Linked DNA regions of Homo sapiens. The protein of the gene in region 1 purifies or fractionates together with the protein of each later gene. This does not show direct contact. Each region holds a gene or a part of one and is shown in the gene's direction. Other genes may lie near its edges.

What was found.
Region 2: the proteins of NCAPD3 (region 1) and SMC4 purify together in Homo sapiens (co-immunoprecipitation; 3 studies listed by BioGRID and IntAct, with this or other methods). This does not show direct contact.

What each region holds. Positions count from the first base shown.
Region 1 is NC_000011.10:134,154,035-134,157,967, reverse strand, and holds part of NCAPD3 (condensin-2 complex subunit D3), read left to right. Parts: coding exon 1-40; intron 41-872; coding exon 873-950; intron 951-3,933.
Region 2 is NC_000003.12:160,409,650-160,413,249, forward strand, and holds part of SMC4 (structural maintenance of chromosomes protein 4), read left to right. Parts: intron 1-2,270; coding exon 2,271-2,435; intron 2,436-2,676; coding exon 2,677-2,804; intron 2,805-3,600. UniProt on the Homo sapiens protein: Central component of the condensin complex, a complex required for conversion of interphase chromatin into mitotic-like condense chromosomes.

The sequences.
Region 1 (3,933 bases):
ACTTTAAATTCTGGAAGCCCAGAAAAAACGTGCAGTCAGGGTAAGCCTTATGTTTGGTGCCAGACACAGTAGAGCATTTACAGATGAAAACACAGAACAAGCTACTTCTTATTCCTTTCAAAGCGGTGTGTTTTCTTATCTTTAAAACAAATAACGTTAATTGGGCTTTTAGGATCATGGGTAGTAAAACAATGCATATTTATTCTAGGAGATTTGGAAAATAGAGTGAAATATGAAACTCACCCATAGCAGTGAGGCATTCCTTCCTCCAGCTATTCTGTTCCTCTTACACACACGTGTTTTGTTTTGTTTATGGAATTGTGATCTGTGCGTGCATTGTTTTATGACCTGTTTCCCTGCATTCTTAAGTCAGATGTAGTAGATGTAGTAGACAGCTTCCATGAACTTTTCTTTCCAACCTTTGCTTTCAGTGGCTTTATAGCATTGTGGCTGTGGAAATAACTGATTTATTACTATCCTGTTCTTTGAAATGTTGATTTTCAATTTTTCCATACAAATACTATCACAGTAAACATCCTTGTACATATAGCCTTGTATGTATGTAATCCTTGGGATTAATTCCCAGCAGTCAAAGGCCATGGATATTTAAAAACTTTGGATAGTGTCAAACTGTCCTCTATCACTTATGCCAAGTTAGACTCTTTTATTTTTTTGAATCCTAATGAGAATGGACATTTTTTCTCATGTTTATCATTTATTTGTATTTCTTCCTGAATTGCCTCTTTATAAGAAAATTGTAAACACTAGTGATTTTGACTTTACGTCTTGCAGATATGTTTTCTCATGTGGTTGTTTTGCTCTTCGTTATTGTTTGGGGGTATTTCTGGATAGCAGCACCTTTTCTGTTCTAGTGTCTTCATACAGTTTGGAGCAAGAGTCGAATGGCGAGATTGAGCACGTGACCAAGCGGGCCATCAGCACCCCCGAGAGTGAGTAACTGATCGGAACACGTGGGCTTCTCCTCAGTCTCTCCTGCATTCGTGATGTGTTTGCTAGAGTCGCAGTAAAACTCCTTCCGGTGCAGGATAGTTCTGATGGTCAGAACCATGAGTGCATTGCTGAGGTGGAGTATTTCACAGTGACCACGGTCGCTTGATCCATGAGCACTGACCGAGTATGTTGTTCCAGTGTCGTTACATTCAGTCAGTCAAACACCACAGTGGCCCGCGGAGCAGACAATGCCGTTGAGGCACAGGTAGGTTGGGTGACTGACCCAGTGGTGCCTTCTGGAGGCGGCCCTCCGTGTCTCTGGGCTGTCCGGGTGCACTGGGCGCTGCTGGGTGGGCCTGCTCCCAGGGCGGGCAGACGTCAGCACCAGCAGGTACCATGCACGCTCTGCAACTGCCAAGACCAGAGACCCGGGGACCCCTGCTCGGAGCCTGTGTCTCATTCCCCTCCATGTTTTTTCCTACTGTTTGTGCTTTTCCTTTGATTTCAAAACAGAGGTGAGTTAGGAGAGTTGAGTATTCTTTTCCTATTATCTTGTGTGATAGCTTCATATTGTGTCAAACCTCATAAAAACCATTATTTTGAGAAAACTCTTACAGGAAGAAGAAATGCTTCCTGTCCTAAATCTGTGGAGTAGTGGCTAGGCCCTGCCGCCGTGTCCCTGTGTGCCCCTCGCTCTGCGCCCGGCTGTGCACAGTGCCCTCAGCAAGCTGCATCCAGCCCCGCTCGTCCCTGGCCATTCCACTCCTCACTGTTTCCACAGACCACAGTGCCTGGAACCTGGGAGGTGTCAGAGATCTCCTCCCGGAGACTTCTGGGAGGGCAGAGCTGGGCGCTGAGCCCAGGCCTTCTGGTCCCAACTCTTGTGCCCCTTCTCCAGCCTGTCTCCTAGTCCTGACTGCAGGGGAAGATGAGAGCGTGCTAAGGTGCTCTTCCTGGTAACAGAGCAGCAAGGTGTCCTGCCGTTCGTTTAGTCACTGCTTCAGTCAGCTCATGTGTGTGGAGCACCTGCTGTATTCTAGCTACTTGCTTGTTTGGTTCTGTCACACTGATGCTGTGATCTCTTAGAATAGTTAACAGGTTAGAGGTAATTTTCATCCAGGTCCCCCTTTGAAGGGAGTTTATCCCACCCCCACCCTCAGACGACAACCGAATCATGACGGCATTTGTCATTAAAGGCAGTGGGTAATTTGGGATCCTGCGTCGTGGACAGGTGCGATGTTCTGTGTGTTAGAGCTTGCTGTGTGTTCGATGTTCCTGGCTCAGGAGTGCCAAGAGCTTCTATTTTGGCAGTGAGGTGCCATATGCTGAAGAAACGGGGAGAACGCATCTCATTTTCGTTGTGCTCATCCTGAGTCCCTGATGTCAGTGTTGGGTTGTTTCCTAGCAGCTCGTGTTTCTCCACAGGGCAGCCTGGCGTGGAGGGTTCATGCCGCCCTCATCTGCCTGTGTGGAGCCACGCTTTGTGCTGGAAATCAGGCGCCCGGTGTCATTGAGTTGGTAGAGTACTTGTTCTTGCTCCAGGCTCTTGGACATAATATTCCTGCTGATGCAGTCTCTGTCCGTCTCTCTTTATACTGAACCAGGAAGAAATGCCTGGAGGTCTCCCCTTCCTGGGAGAACTGTTAGATAGTTTAAAAGCACTCAGTTCTGTTTTCTCTGTGGTTTATACGTCCAGATTCTTTTTGGCAACTTTTAGTTTAGGTGGGGGAGACTGTCAGGAAGTGTCTCAGCTCTTCAAAGCTGGCAGGAAAGATGCCACCCAGTTCAGCACCAATTCACAGTGGCTTTGCTAAATGGAAATGAAAATTAGTCAATTTTCAGAGCGAGGATTTTAACTGAAAATCTGTGGGGGTTTTAGCAAGTCCCTGTTACTGTTACCATTCGGGTGGCACAGACGCTGCTGCCTTCGATTCTACGCACAGTGCATGGGGGACGTCAGAGCCCCCGCACCCGGGCTTCTGTAAAGATGGGAGACTAATTTCCTGGAGTGCATATGGGCTTCCAAACAGGAAGAGCAGTGTGTGTGTCAGGAAGGGAATTTCATGTGACAGCACAAGGAGAGACTTCACCGAAACAGAATAAGCAGATCTAGCAGTGATGAGGAATTCTCTACCATCGTCTATTAGTGACACTCAAGTAGCCATCGGGTACACAGCTGCAGTGCGCTGATGAGCTTTGAACTGTAAATGGGAAGACACAGTCCATACTCAAGACACCAAGTGGAGAACGGGGAGCGCTCTGAAGCTGCCTCCTCGCATGTGCTTGCAGAAGGGCAGCAGGTTCAGTGGTACCAGCAAGCAGCTGCCCAGCCCGTGCTGTTCCCGGGAGTGTGCTGGTGGCAGCTTATGCACTGGGTACAGCACCACCCAGGAGGGGCGAGGCTGCACCACCCAGGAGGGGCGAGGCTGCACCACCCAGGAGGGGCGAGGCTGCACCACCCAGGAGGGGTGAGGCTGCACCACCCGGGCCTCCAAGACAGGGTGGCATGTGTAGGCAGATGGGGCGGTGGGGGGGGGGGTGCAGAGAAGCATAATGTGCAGACAGGGCCTGCTGAGGAAGAGGACGCAGGAGGGTGGACGTGTTTGTGCACGCGTGCACCTGAGCCTAACAGGTGAGTCTGTAAAGGCAGCTTGGGACCAGCTGAGACTGAGGGTGGACTTCAGGCTCTCCTAGGAACACAGCGATTGAGGTGTCTTGAAGCAGGGCAGTAAATTTACCAGCTTCTTGATGAAACATAACTCCAGTGATGCAGGGATGATACTGCTAATAAATGACAGTGGCTGCTAACATCTCTTGAGCACTGCCCTTGCAGCCAGCACGATGCTAAGCACTCAACGTGGATAACCTCATGTAGTCCTGGCAGCCCCCCAATGAGGTAGCTATGTTTTTATACCCACTTAAGAGATGAAGAAACCTGAGGGTCTCAGAGCAGCTCACACAGCTGGTGAGACACTGAGCCAG
Region 2 (3,600 bases), on another chromosome or scaffold:
TTTGGGATGGTTTTTCATTTTCTTAAAATAAGTGTTCAGATATTCTCCTTGAATTGGGTAGAATATTAATTGTCAGATATTGTTTTTTATTTGGATGATAAACACTAACCCACAGGATTTAAACTACAACTTCTAGACTAGGCATGGTGGGTCATGCCCTTAATCCCAGCATTTTGGGAGGCTGAGGCAAAAGGATCGCTTGAGCCCAGGAGTTCGAGACCAGCCTGGGCAACATAGAGGGACCACCATGTGTACAAAAAAAATTTTTTTTTAAAGATTAGCTGGGTGTGGTGGTGTGCATCTGTAGTCCCGGCTACTTGGGACACTGAGGTGGGCGGATCGCTTGAGTCTGAAAGGTCAAGGCTGCAGTGAGCTGAGACCACACCACTGTACTCCAGCTTAGGTGACAGAACAAGACCCTGTCTCAAAAAAATAATAAATGAGTGAACAAACAAACTGCAGCCTCTAGATCAGTAGTTCTCAGCTGACAGTAATTCTGCCCCTTTTCCCATAGGACATTCAGTAACGTCTGAAGACAGTTTCGGTTGTTATAGCTGGTAGAAGTGGGGATGCTACTGGTGTCTAGTGGGTGAAGGTCAGAAATGCTATTAAAGCATCTTATAATGCCCAGCATAGCTCTCCACAACAAAGAATATCCAGCCCAAAATGTCAGTAGTGCCACTGTTGATAAACCCTACGTAGATACAAACTTGAATAAGACTCTTGGCTTCCTCAGTGACTTAACGTTCATCCTGTGTAATCCAAAGGTTTGGGCATTTTTCCAGGCTTCAATCCTGTCTAAAACTTAAACTCTTGCTGCAAACATTTAGAGAGAACTAACAGTTGAAAGCAGAATAAAATACTTTATATAAATATCTACATATTTTCACTTATATACCGATTCATACATAATATAATGAATGTTATGGAAAATAACTTTTGGGGTAACAGTTTTACTTTGATAATCATTGTGCTTATAGACTGTCAGAAGTATCGAAAAGTGATTTATGCAAATAAAATTATTTCTTAATGAGTAGATTTTCAAATAAGCTGTTTTGTCCACTGTTATTGAATTGTTTACTTTTTGTAATTATGTTGAGGCTTTTGGTGAATTATGATGCTCTCATTAGTAAGTTTTACCCCACATTTTTAAGGTTCACCTGTATTCACTTAGGAAATAGGAATCACTAAGATATTTGAATTAAGAAAACAATATACTATTTTTAATGTGTAATTCTTTTTGTTGACTTTTTTCGTCTTTGCTATTTTGTTGAAAATAAGAGGTATATCTTTTTTCATTTGCCTGTACCTATTCTTCCATTGTAATAGTCTAGAGTACAAACAAGCTACTCCTATAACGTAGCAGCATTTGGCCTGAACATACTCAGACACAATTTTCTCTCCACCATCAAACTAAATGACTGCCTAGCAGTCAGCCTTGATGGTTACTTATTATGGATTTTTTTTCTCTTTACTCTTCATAATTAAACTGCATAAATGCAAATATGTAAAGTTAATCTAAGATTTTAATTACAGTTCAAAGTTGTTATATTAGTGATTACAAACTGAAAGTTTTCTGATGTCTTATGTACCAGTGCCATTAGTTTTCTCTAGTCAAGGTGGTCTGTTTGATTTCTGTTATTACCATGAGAAATAGGTAATATCCTTTTCTGTCAAAGGCTCTTGTTTTTAGAAAACTGAACATGTAAGTTTTTGACTACCTTTGAAACCCATTACTTGTTAAGGAACTCCTAAAAACCATGTTTGTAGAGAAAGTTGGTAATACTACTTTGGGACAGGGTTCCTAACACAGTTTAACCATGCAAGTGTTTTTGAAAATTCTTTGTTTTAGAACAGGAGCTTCAATTGTGTTATTAACAATTGATAATGTTTCCACTATAATCAGATTGCAGATTAAGTGAAAGCTTTCCTAAATTTTACTTAAAGAAACAAGTTTTATTTATTTATATTGAACATTCTAGTTGGGGAAATGAGTGTGTGTAAGTGGGTGTATATTACACTTTTATAAGGATTTATCTAAGGGAATATAAATTCATGTTTCATATCTCCCTGTGTAAAATTAAAACTCTTAGGAATACCAGTGAAAATAACATTTTTATTTATACCTTATTAAATCATTGCACTACTAACTGTACATTATTTAGATGTTTATTACTCTTGGCTTTATTATTTAACTGCTCCCAATTCTCACTTAAGATTGATTTAGCTAAACATACACAGTGAGTATGAAATATAACTTTTTTTTAAAGGGTGAAGTTGAACAAATTGCTATGATGAAACCAAAAGGCCAGACTGAACACGATGAGGGTATGCTTGAATATTTAGAAGATATAATTGGTTGTGGACGGCTAAATGAACCTATTAAAGTCTTGTGTCGGAGAGTTGAAATATTAAATGAACACAGAGGAGAGAAGGTGAATCATCTGTAGACTTTCATTGTAAATCAGAATGTTTCATTTATGATCTAACAAATTTTAGTAAGTCAGATATTCATGTTATAATACTTAATGAAGAAGTGTTATATTGAAATTTATATCTTAACATTTAAGATGAACATTCTCCTTATTAACTGTTTTTATCTAATGTTTGCATATTTTAAGTTCATATTGTACATATGAAGTGTGTATTCAGTCTTTAAACTTTTAATTTCTGTAGTTAAACAGGGTAAAGATGGTGGAAAAGGAAAAGGATGCCTTAGAAGGAGAGAAAAACATAGCTATCGAATTTCTTACCTTGGAAAATGAAATATTTAGAAAAAAGAATCATGTTTGTCAATATTATATGTAAGTGCCTTGATTGATATTACCAATTTTTATATTAGTTTTTAACCATTAAGTCAAAGCCCTTCTCTTTTCCTAGAGAAACATGAAGACTGAAGTGAAAAAAAATCTCTAAATATTGTTTTGTGTGACTGAATGTGTTAGCTCATGCCTGTAATTCCAGCACTTTGGGAGGCTAAGGCAGGAGGATCACTTGAGGCTGGGAGTTCAAGACCAGCCTGGGCAACATAGCAAGACCCCATCTCTACAAAAAAAGGAATTATGTGGTGAACTTATCCAATGTGAGGACTATCTGGCTGTGACACCTGTCATCCCGTTGATCACCAGGGTTGAATTTATTAAATTAGGCATATTAATTCATTGAAGTTGACTTTTTAGTATCCTGCTTTAAGTTGGGAGGTAGGTTCACAGGTATTTATTACTGTACTCAGTCCTTTTACGTGTGCACTTTTTAAAATTCGTGTAATAGCAGATCTGATTTTTTTCAGCTTATGATGAACTGTTTTTTGAGATGGGCTGTTTCACCCAGGGTGGAGTGCAGTGTGTGATCACGGCTCACTGCAATCTCAACCTTCCGGACTCAGTTGATCCTCCCACCTCCACTTCATGAGTAGCTGGGACTACAGGGCACACACCAACACACCTGGCTAATTATTATTATTATTATTGTTGCTGGGATTTTTTTGTTTTTATTTTTTCTTTTTTCTTTTTTTGGTAGAGATGGGGTTTCGCCATGTTGCCCAAGCTGGTCTCAAACTTCTGAGTTCAGGCAGTCTGCCTGCCTCAGCCTCCTAAAGTG